Linked DNA regions of Homo sapiens: region 2 is linked to region 1. A link means that fine-mapping ties the variant in region 1 to the expression of a gene that starts in the linked region. Tissue or cell type: subcutaneous fat. Region 1 holds a variant in brackets; the other region holds the start of a gene. All regions are shown on one strand. Distances are between the middles of the regions.

What was found. PIP is the estimated chance that this variant, and not a neighbour inherited with it, causes the effect.
Region 2: it holds the start of SLC17A9, and the variant in region 1 is the best candidate, but not a certain one, in a credible set for the expression of SLC17A9 in subcutaneous fat (GTEx, PIP 0.50).

Annotation. Positions count from the first base shown.
Region 1 is chr20:63,257,267-63,260,257 of GRCh38, reverse strand. FLJ16779 (a long non-coding RNA gene) reads right to left here. Exons shown (of 1, transcript NR_024389.1): 1 at 1-2,991. Among named protein-coding and RNA genes, the nearest start is that of NKAIN4, 4.3 kb to the right of the region's middle. RefSeq lists enhancers at 1-249, 1,485-2,102. The variant C/A (reference allele first, on the strand shown) is at 1,537.
Region 2 is chr20:62,951,478-62,954,280 of GRCh38, reverse strand. SLC17A9 (solute carrier family 17 member 9) reads right to left here and starts at 1,572. Exons shown (of 13, transcript NM_022082.4): 1 at 1,392-1,572. The coding sequence starts at 1,450. RefSeq lists silencers at 1,352-1,451, 1,462-1,781 and an enhancer at 1,333-2,162.

The DNA.
Region 1 (2,991 bases):
AGGCTGGGTCTCACCTGGCCAGAGGTGTGGAGGATGCAGAGACCTCTGACCGGACTGGCCACGCTCGCCGTCACACCCTGACGCCTGCGGCCACCCGTGCAACTGGAAGCTGAGGAGGCAGGTGCTGAGCCAGGTGGGTGTCAGACCGGGGACTCAGAATCCTGTGAGGCCTTCATTCAGTTCCCACCTGCTCCGCGTGGGAGACTTGGCTGAGGCAGAGGAGAAAGTCAGCAGACCCGCAGGAGGGCGTGTGCGAGGTGCACAGGGGGCTACTCTCTGGGGCATGAGACACCACCTGGGACTTCCCAGGCTCACAGCAGCCCCTGGGGAGAGAGGCCCCACATGTGCACACAAGAGCCATGGGGATCTTCTCCTTAAACAAGCTACGTGACTCTCCTGGGACAGGCCCACCCGCCCAGAGCTCCCACTGGGAAAGGACCCCTGACAGGAAGGACAGGAAAGCCCTGAGGCTGGTTCTGTGGTCGCCAGCAACAGGAGCCTGGAGGGAAGTCAGGAAAGGCGCAGGCTGGGGAGCAGGCTCGGTAAGACGGCCTGGAGGATGGGGGCTCCCCTCTGGGAGCTGCGGCCATGATCCTAGCTGCCCCTCTGCCCCCTCAGCCGAGGGCTTATAGTACCAGGGAGAGTCTGACGGCCACACTCAGGCGGAGGCCATGTCTCTACGGCCAGCCCGAGGACGTGGTTGATGCGTCCCCTGAGGTTGCACACACAGCCCGTGTGGCTGCACAGAAGCATCCGAGTGAGGGAGAGGCGGCACTGCCAATGGAAACCAGGGTGACTCAGTGACAGACGGCCCAGGAAGCTGAAGTGCCTCTGCCTCCGAGAATAAGAAGACAGGGTGGGAAACGGTATTTCTGGCGAAGAACAATTCCAAAATGGTGGTGGGGGGCAGGGTGTGTGCCGTCAGGGCTGGAAGTGGGGGGCTGCACTGCTCTGCGGGGAGCTGGCATCTGGGTGGGTCCTGAGTGTGGGAACGGAGTTCAAGGGGGTGGGGGATTGCGGGGAACAGGACCACGCGTACCGTGAGGGGCCAGGGAACAAGAATCTCACCCAGGAAGCCTGGGCTGAAGCCAGCTGGGAAGAAGCTGCGGCAACTCCCAGGCAGCTCCCAAGAAACCTCTGGGAAAACGCCCCACCCGAGGCAAGCATCCTGGGCTGCCCCTGAAGTCCAGCTCAGCCTGATTCCCACACTGGGAGTGCACACACGTGTTGCATTGTTGGGCAGGACGTTCCTTTCGGGAGGGAGAAGCTGGGACTGGAGAGACCCGGGCCAGGCTCTGAGCCAGAGAGGGGCCTCTCTGTGTGTCTGCAGTAAACTGGAAACCAACCAGCACCCTTTTTTTTCAAAGGAAGAACAGAGTCGACAACATTGCCTGTGGGCCTGGATGAAGGGGTCTGGCTGTGCTCTCTGTGGAGCCATGGGGATTGGCCTCTCCTTTTCCAGGAGTGTTTGTTGCAGTTGAAAGTTCTCCCGGTTTCATCTGAAACGGGGACAGGGGTGTTGTGACAACAGAGGGG[C/A]CTTTGCAGCCCCGCACAGGCTCTGCGGACAGCTCTGCCGGGAACCCAGGCCTGGGTTCCTCTTCCTTTCCTTTTCCTGTTGTCTCTGCCACAAGGAAGGTCTGCCCTGCGGGCGGGCTGGGGCTGCTGCAGGTGTGGGAGAGCAGCGACTGAATGGTGGCCCCCAAATCTAGGCCTGGCACAGTGGCTCACACCTGCAAACCCAGCATGTTGGGAGGCCAAGGCAGGAGAATTGCTTGAAGCCAGGAGTTTGGGGCAAGGTTCTTTGCAGATGTGATTAGGGATCTTGACATGAGAGCATGCTGGATTACATAGGTGGGCCCTAAATGGCATCACAAGCATCATAGCAAGTGACACACAGGAGAGGAGGAGGTCACGCAAAGGTGGAGGCAAAGACCAGAGCGATAACGCCCACAGGCTAAGGACGCTGGGAGCCACAGGAGCTGGGAGGGGCAGGAAGGACCCTCCCCAGAGCTTCGAAGGCAGTGCAACCCTGCCCATACCTGGATGTTAGATGTCTAGCCTCCACAACTGTGACGTAATAAACTTCCGTGGCTTCAAGCCGCTAGTTTATGGGAATTTGTTATGGCAGCCGCTAAAAATGAATACACTGGGTTTACTAAGAAAGAAAAAAGGAGAAGATGCACAAGGTCCTGGCCTGAACAAGCTGTCACTCTCCTGAGTTTCCCTGCCCTGGAGGCCTTTCCCAGCTTGCCAGTCCTCCCAGGAATGCATGGGCCCCACTCGGCCTGCGTTTGTGCTGACTGGGGTGGCTGTCCTTCCATTGCTGTCCTTCTCTGTCTTTCACTGTCCTCCTCTGTCCATCACTGTCCTCCACTGTCCATCACTGTCCTCCACTGTCCATCGCTGTCCTCCGCTGTCCATCACTGTCCTCCGCTGTCCATCACTGTCCATTACTGTCCATCACTGTCCTCCGCTGTCCATCACTGTCCTCCACTGTCCATCGCTGTCCTCCACTGTCCTCCACTGTCATCCGCTGTCCTCCACTGTCATCCGCTGTCCATCGCTGTCCTCCGCTGTCCATCGCTGTCCTCCGTTCTCCATCACTGTCCTCCACTGTCCATCACTGTCCTCCGCTGTCCATCACTGTCCTCCACTCTCCATCACTGTCCTCCTCTGTCCATCACTGTCCTCCGCTGTCCATCACTGTCCTCCGTTCTCCATCACTGTCCTCCGCTGTCCATCACTGTCCTCCGCTGTCCATCACTGTCCTCCGCTGTCCATCACTGTCCTCCGCTCGCCATCACTGTCCTCCGCTGTCCATCACTGTCCTCCGCTCTCCATCACTGTCCTCCGCTCGCCATCACTGTCCTCCGCTGTCCATCACTGTCCTCCACTGTCCATCACTGTCCTCCACTGTCCTCCATTGTCCATCACTGTCCTCTGCTCTCCATCACTGTCCTCCACTGTCCATCACTGTCCTCCGCTGCCCAT
Region 2 (2,803 bases), 310 kb after region 1:
GCTAGGAAAAGGCGTGCGTGTGGCAGCCTTGACCCACAGGCCCCTCCAGAATCCTTGGCGCTACCCAATAAGGGCCTGCAAAGGAAGTTGAAGAGCTGTGGCAAGGGCTCCTTTTTAAACATCGAGCCTGGGAGGGACGTAGTGAAGGCTGCGGCAAGGGCTCCTTTTTAAACATCGAGCCTGGGAGGGACGTAGTGAAGGCTGCGGCAAGGGCTCCTTTTTAAACATCGAGCCTGGGAGGGACGTAGTGAAGGCGGAGCCACTCAAACCAGCCGCCAGTGAGGAGGCCCTGAATCCCTGGGGAGCTGGCCCTGCCCGGCAGGCCTGGATGAACGTGGGTGGGGGAAGAGGAAGAGAGCAAGGGGCAGGGCCCGCTGAGGGCAGCCCTCCCCTCTAATTGGCGCCTGACAGGGCTGTGATCTGGGCTGCCAGCTTTTCCCATGCAGCCAGCGCTCCCTTCATCTGGGTGCCAACATCCGATGGTGGCACTGCCCCTTTGGGCCTTCCTACAACTCTTCCCAGCACTTCTAGGGTCCTCAGCCCTCATACAGCTGGGAACTGGTGGGGCCAGAAGGTGCCATTACCTTGCCATGGTCAGGGTAGGTACCCTGGGGACTCAGTGCAGGCAGGAGACTGCTCTGGAACCCACAGGGCCTGAGTCTAGGCCCAGGGTCCAGCCACTTAAGGCCTCAGCCCAAGACCCAGAGCCAAGGGGTTCAGCAGTGTGGGGGCTGCTCTCAGGAGCTCCCTGGCAGAGGCCCTCCCCAGCTGACCAATGGCCCGCGGTCACCATCTCGCCCGGTTTCTGAGGCGTCACCTGCCCAGGGAGCCTCCTACAGGCAGCAGTGCTGGTGGCCAGGCGACCTGCCCAGGCCCTGCTTCTCCCCACCACCAAATGCTCCGAGAGCTGAAGCCAGCGGGGAGCTCGTCCTCAGCACACAGCTGGCACGTGGTGGCAGGACCCCCCCCAACCCCGTCCAGCTGCAGGCTCCAGCCCGTGCCCCCTACCTGGCCTCCTGACTGTCCTGGCGCCTGCTTGTCAGGGTCATGCATACACAGGGTGGTTCCACCTGGCGAGGGGTATGCCTCCTGACTGTCCAGGACAATGCCCCTGGCCTGGGGAACATAGCCCTGCCTGGAAGAGCCCCAGGAACACTGGCTGGGATAGGGCACTTGCCAGGTCCGGTCCTGGAATCTCATGGCAGGGAGGAAGGACAGGGCACTCACTTCCTTCCACCTCCCACAAGGAACACAGGGGGCCCCACAGCCAGAGGAGCCCGCCCAGCTCAGCCCTCCCCACCTAGCATCGTCCCACGTGGCAGTATCTCAGCTCCCTCCCCACGGCCCCATCTCCACCGCTCCCACCCCCCCTCCCCTCACCCCCGCCACACCTGGACCACTGGGTGTCCCCGGCCATGTCCCTGCGGGCCTCGTCTGGGGGTGGCTGCATCGGGCTTGGGGTGCTCAGACGGCGTGGGCACAGCTGTGTCCCGGGGCTGCCTCCCAGCCCAGGCTGACCCACCCGGGCAGCACCGCCCAAGTCCACGTGTCAGTCCCAGCGCGCTTCCGTCTGGTTCTCTCAGGACTTGTCGCCCCCAGACGGCCACCAGGGCGGGCAGGCGGGGCAGGGCGGGGCATACCACTCGGGTGCCCGCCCCACCCTGCTGACGTCGGTCCCTGCTGCCCCATAGGAGCGGGGCCAACGGTCGCCCTGGCTGGGTCGCCCTGACTGTCCGACGCGCCCTGGCTCAGCCCCAGCAGAGGTTAGTGTGGGGGCAGAGGGGGATTCCCAGCAGCAGGCCGGTCAGACTGGGGCTTCAGAGAAGGGCCCTGGTGGTAAGCCTGGTCCAAGAGGTGCCAGCCCATCCCTTGGACACGACACGGAGCCATGGGGCCGTCTGTCCTCTGTCTATAAAATGGGGAATGATGGCAGTCCCTGCCTTACCGATCAAATAAAATCAGGGATAAAGTCTTAACCAAGTGCAAAGAGAGTAAAAGTACAGGGTCACTGATTTTTAAAATGGATCTTTCGGGGCAGGGATGGGTCCACTCCTGAGCCCTTGGACCAAGCCTGGGAGAGCTGGACAAATCCAGCGCTGGCCCATGTCTTCTCAGCAGATGCCTGTGAAGGTTGTCATTGGCCCCTGGGTTCCTGGACAAAAGGTGTCCTGAGGACCCATCACAGGCCAGGTTCTGGGCTCGGGGGCAGGGGTGACGGGGTGGGGCCCCCACTCTGTGTGCTCCTGCTGCCATGCCAAGGATGAAGCCAGCAGGGGAAGGCCTCAACCATGCAGCCTTTCCCCAGGAGGCGGCAGGGCCTGCTCCTCAGGCGTTGCCCCCACCTCCACTAGGGCCCACCTCAGTCCATCCTCCACGCAGCAGCCACCACCCAGGGGCCGAGGGAGACACGTCTAAGGCAGGGCCTTGCACTTAGAACAGACCCACATTTACCCCCTCCCTCCCCCTAGCCCTCAGGTCTCCAACAGCCCAACCCACTGCACTGCAGGGCCTGCTCCCAGGGCCCTCTGAACAGAAAGACACGGGCACCCTGAAAAGCAAGGTCATACTTTCATCCATCCTGACGTAGGGTAGGTGAAAAGATGGTGGCAGAGAGAGGTTTATTGCCCCAAACAGCCCTAGCCCATAGCCAGGAAGTTTGGAAACTGTTGCTAAACGTATCGCTGTCAACAGCACCCTCTTTGAGGTGATTCGCTTCCATTCACTCTGTGATGGTGATTTCCTACCGAGATCTGTGATCATGCTGCAGCAGACATTTGCCATCTGGTTACCCAAAGTCCCCTTC